2 separate regions of the Homo sapiens genome follow, and region 2 is linked to region 1. Evidence: fine-mapped expression QTL. Tissue or cell type: sun-exposed skin. Region 1 holds a variant in brackets; the other region holds the start of a gene. All regions are shown on one strand. Distances are between the middles of the regions.

Region 1 (2,762 bases):
CCGCCAGTCGCCGTCGCCGCCCCCGCCGCCGCGCGGAGCTTCCTACTCGCAGCCGCCGCGCGGACTGAGCATGCGCGCCAGTGGGTGCGCGCCGAGGGCGTTTCCCGGCCCGAGGGATGCTCCGCTCCGGGTTTTCCCGGCGACCTGCATCCAGAGAGGGTCGACTGACCTGCGGGCCGGCTGCTGGCGGTCTGCTTACTCCGGCAAAGACGGGGGCGCATCGGGCCGTTTGAGGAAGGCAGACTGTGAAAGGACTTGGGACAAAGATGAGGCGGAGTAGAGGCGGCCTGAGCAGAGCAGAACAACTTTGATATTTAGTTTTATTTAACTCGCACTCCTCTCCTTGCTCCCCTTCCCCAAAACAACTTTCTCTTCCGGGGTCACACAGGACCGCCCCAAAGCGTACCTTGCGCGCCGGGGGCGCCAGGCGCTACTGGATTCGGTGTAGTTTTGAGGTGTTTGCACCACCCTCGCTGCTGCTTTCGTGGCTGCCCGTGTGCCCGCTGCTCACGGCTGCCCCAGAAGTGTGAGCTGGCCGCGCCCGGCCCTCTGGTCCTCGGGCACCGCCTGCAGGCTTTGTAACTTGGGAGCACATCTCTGGTGATCATGGTTTATGCAGTGAGTGATAGTAAATCCTCCTCCCTGTACCAGCAAAGGCATAGGAGTCTGAGAGTCTGCGAGATTCTCATAGATGTGGTTGCACCTGGCAAGGAGCCCAGCTGCAGAAATAAGCAGGCAAACGCGAGTTTCTGAGCCAGTTCCAGCCCGGCCCAGATGTTGGCCCCTGACAACTAGCTGTGGCTGGTGCGGAGGGAGGAGCGAGGGAAGAGGGGCAGATCGAGGCTGCCAGGTGAGCATCCTCCATACAGCTCCTGCTTTTCTGCTACAACCCCAGTCCCGTCCAGCCCGGATGACCGGGGAGGCTCACTATTGGGTTATAACAACCATTCCCTCGCCCCGACTCATTCCTGCGGACCACGGCCGGAATCCTGAACTGCCCCTCTTTGCCTGTAACTGTTTGCAACACAGTCCCCATCTCCGAATAACCAAATTTTCTCCTTTAATGAAGGGTTGCTAAAGTCAAGGTCAATCACAATGATGAATCATTTCCTTGGGGGCTTCTCTGATTCCCCACCCGGCCGCCCCTTCGTTCCACACTTTCCCTTTCAAGCATACTCAAACTCCAGGTTTCCACCTGCGGCCGCTGCCACGCTGGCTCTCCCACACTCACTCCCGCCCTCCAGCTGCTATAGCTAAAATCTGGAGCCACGGAGTTCACTTTTCTATAGAAGACAAAGCTGAGCATGCTCAGTGGCCAAGGCAAAGTTTGGTCGGAAACTAGTTTTTGCATTAGACTCTCCATGGGCTCCATAGACTCTCCTGTACCTTACGACTAGGCACAGGAGCGTTTCCCCGGTGAAATGGAGAAGAGGACACTTGGTCTTTTCAACTTTACTAGGAGGGCTCCTTTCTTCCCAGTCCGTAAGGAGGGGTCTGACTTTCATTTCCACCCCAGCATTATCACCTTAACTCTCATTCCAGTCAATCCCGAAACTCCGTTGCCCTACCCACTTCACCCTTCTTTTGTTTGTCCTGATTTGATTCCTGC[G/A]TTCTCACAGAGGGCTACCTGGACTTTGAACCTCCACCCCCCTTTCTACATTCTTGCATTCCAGAAACATATGAAGCTCATTTCTGCCACCCTTCCTAGAAAACTGGTTCCTGACAGAGACATGTGGAAAGGTAAGTAAGTCCCTGTCTTCAAGTTTTCCAACTGCTTTTTAAAAAAAAAATTAAAGAAGGCTAGTTCCCTCCATTTAAAATAATGTGATTTCCAGAGGTTATCACACTAGATTATTTTAACGAACACCAAATGTATTTTAAAGACGTGTCCAGTCTTTTAAAAATTCAGACCTCAATAAGCATTCCTTGTGTGCCTCTCCATGATGCTTCAGCTTCTCTGTGTTATTATTTTTGTATCACCTTAATCCGAAAGAGATTATGACCTCTTAAACAACAGATACTGTCTCACTTGCTTTGTAGATCTGGGAAGCTGCCACAGTGCCATATGCACAGTCAATGATCAACAGTTTTTGTTGATTTAATTCTATGGGTAGTCACTGGGAGAATTCTTGACTTTCCTTGTTTCCAATAATCTGCCAAGAATTTGAAACAGCGTAGTAAGAGAGAAAAAATGAAACAACACCTTGTCAACTACAGAATAGGGAAGCAATTAACTTTTTACTCACCTGAAGAATTTTAGGGTTTCCCGCCTGATAAAACATCTAGTTTCTTCCGCCACATACAAATGAGTTTGACTCAATTTAAACAAAGTTTAAAAAGACCACCTAAATCACTTTATTCTTAGAATAATGTAATTCTTTTATTCATTTGTACTGTGAACCATGTTTTCACAGCCTTTGAGCTAAAGAGATCTGTGTTTGAACTCTTGTTATGCCACTAGCTTCGTAGAAATTGACAGTTTACTTAACTTGTATAAGCCTCAGTTTTATCATATCTCAAATGAGGATGATTCATGGGATTGTTATCTGGATTAAATGAAATGACATATGTAAAATGCTTAGTACAGTATCAGACACACATTACTTTAATCAATAAATATTAATTATGCACTTTATTAGCCAGCCTCCAGGAAGTTAGGGACAACATCCACCATCTCCTGGTTGGTCTATGTAACCAACTTTTTCTTTCTCGAATCACTCACTTTGGGGAAGCCAGCTGCCATGTTGAGCAAATCTAGAGCT
Region 2 (2,618 bases), 130 kb after region 1:
TACTGCACATTAAAATTTTTGACATTTTAGGCTACAGAAATTTTGACTGAATCCTCTTGCTGTACAACAGCCCCCACAACACTTGCTCTCAGGTGTCTCACTTATCTTAAAAGTCCTCTCTTTGTCATACTTCTCTTCAGATGTTTCCAACATGCACCGCCTCTGAAGTTTTTTTGTTCCAGCCATCTCTGTAGGATGAAGAGTAAGTTCTCAGAGTGCCAAGATAGCAAAGTGATGCTTAACACATCATCTGACTAATGAAGAATAATTAGAACATTTATTTTCCATGATCTATTTTTCTATTATTGTAGCTTAATATCATGTTAACTTTTTAAGCAACCATTTCACACTCTTGGTGCCCATTAAAATTTGTAGTCAATTATAATCATTGAATTTTTTTTCTCATGAAGTGTTGCCAAAGTAGATATTTCCCAACCTGCATGTGTGCTAGAGTGTGTGTTAATCTCAGACCTCTCTGTGATCACTGGAAAATCGCTGGCCATAAACCTCACTTTATTAAACTCTAAAATGAGCCTAATAATGTTAGAACCACATGTGAGGTGCTGTAGAAAGTACCATATCTGGTAGATACGTGCTCCTCTTATAAAGAATAGGCTATTTATAACCACTATCTTCTCAAAAGACCGTAGGTGACCAGGCTAATTACCTTTCCAAAAACTAATTTTTAATCCACAGCCTTCCCTTCTCCTTACTCTACTAGAATCCCTGCTTCCAACAATTAAACATCCATCGAATTAATTTTCTTTCCTCTCACACAGGTTGATTGAGCTCTTGACTTTCTTTCTTTCTTTCTTTCTTTCTCTTTCTTTCTTTCCTTCCTTCCTTCCTTCCTTCCTTCCTTCCTTCCTTCCTTCCTTCTTTCTTTCTTTCTTTCTTTCTTTCTTTCTTTCTTTCTTTCCTTCTTTCTTTCTTTTCTTTTCTTTTCTTTTCTTTTTCATTTTGAGCAGCTGGTCAGTTCAAGAAACCCAACCCCTCTCCACCAACCGGAGCCCCGCCCCCTGCCCCCGGCTGGCTGGAGAGTTGAAGGCCAAAGACGGAGAGGAGGGCGCTCGCTGCTCTGCTCCCGGGCCAAAGCGCAGGCTCGGCCTGCCTTATCCAGTGGGACGGCAAAGGGTCACTCTAAAAATTGCTGCAGCCGGGTCTTGTCAGGTGGCTGCTGGTGGCTCCCCACCGGATTTTCCTTCTCCCTCTCTCTATCTCCACAGATCCCTTCCCAAGAGGAGTCTCCTGCTAAAACTTCATCATCTCAAGTTGACCTGCCACTTCACCCAAGGAGGGTAAGGAGCTGGGACCAGAGTCGCCAATTCCTGCCTTCTAGATCCTGGGGTGTGTGTGGATGTGTGGGTGGGAGAGGGTGGGCTGAGTGTTTGTGGTTGTAGAGCTATTTTACTGAAGGGAGTCTACAGCTGGGTCAGGTGGTTCATGTCCCTAATCTGAAGTTGGGAGACAGAAAACATTTTTTTGAAATCTGAGAAATGTAACGTGTTAGGAGAACTTCACGGTAACAAAATGCATGACAATGATGCCCTACAAATGTAAAACCACCTGTAATTTCTAACAAAAATTCTAAATCTCTAAAGCTTAAGATATATTTTTCTTTCACTACTTTATAGAGAAGGAGAAGGAGAGAAAATTCTTAGGCTTTGTTCACAAAGTTTAGAATTCTACCTTTATTTTTATCAAGAATCATTTTAACATTTGTTACTGATCAGTTTGGATGAAATGTTACCAGTTTTAACTAAATCTGTAGCACAAAACTCAGACAACTCTGAATTCCCAGAAATATAACCTATTGATGAAATGGAAATATCCTTCCTAAAAAAAAAAAAAAATTTGTTATTTGGCTAAAAAATAGGTTTTTGTCTTAAATGTGCACATATCATTATGCTGACATATATTTTATATTAAAAATCATGTTGGAAGTGTAATGGTGAAGTGGAAACCACCCCCCTACACCCCACCCCGAGGTTGGACTTAAAATGGCAAGCCACAGAAGCCAGGAGGGTTTCTATTCCTGGAGGTAGGGCTGATGAGCCCCGACAGATGCAGCGATAGGAATGTGGCCAGGACAGGGAGCAGGCGCAGCTGATTCGCCCCTTTGGCAAAAAGACATTCTGGGATCCCAGTTCATACTGGCATGAGAGTGACAGTGACACTTTAGCACACATGGCTTTCCAGTTTACCCTGTTGTGGACTCCCAGGAAGCATGGGTGCAGGGCAGTGGGAAGGAAAATGTTCTCAAATATGAAGTAACAACTCTTTTCTATAACCAGTTCTGGGGGTCTTCATCTGGGATCAGCTGGGGCCAGGAAGAATTTAAGTGCAATACTTTCACATGGACTTGCCCACTTACAGACAAGGGTCCAATTATGTACCATTGCTTGGCAGCATTATTCTCAGTCCAGTCATTTTGGATCTATTTCGGGTTATGGATCTCATGAAAACGCTGAGCCCAGTGTGTGGAAAGTACACATAAACATATGCACACAGTATGTTTCAGACTATTCCGCAGGACTCATGGACTCACCTGATACCCAGCCCTGATCAGGAATGCCAGATACAAGTCAGGTCATCCAGCTACATTTGAATTTCAGGTA

Evidence for each region. PIP is the estimated chance that this variant, and not a neighbour inherited with it, causes the effect.
Region 2: it holds the start of KLHL31, and the variant in region 1 is fine-mapped to the expression of KLHL31 in sun-exposed skin (GTEx, PIP above 0.99).

The regions. Positions count from the first base shown.
Region 1 is chr6:53,792,261-53,795,022 of GRCh38, reverse strand. It overlaps LOC124901333 (a long non-coding RNA gene), which reads left to right and starts at 1,348. Exons shown (of 5, transcript XR_007059619.1): 1 at 1,348-1,482; 2 at 1,674-1,740. LRRC1 (leucine rich repeat containing 1) reads right to left here and starts at 18. Exons shown (of 14, transcript NM_018214.5): 1 at 1-18. RefSeq lists silencers at 1-152, 1,198-1,327. The variant G/A (reference allele first, on the strand shown) is at 1,610.
Region 2 is chr6:53,664,281-53,666,898 of GRCh38, reverse strand. KLHL31 (kelch like family member 31) reads left to right here and starts at 1,143. Exons shown (of 3, transcript NM_001003760.5): 1 at 1,143-1,298.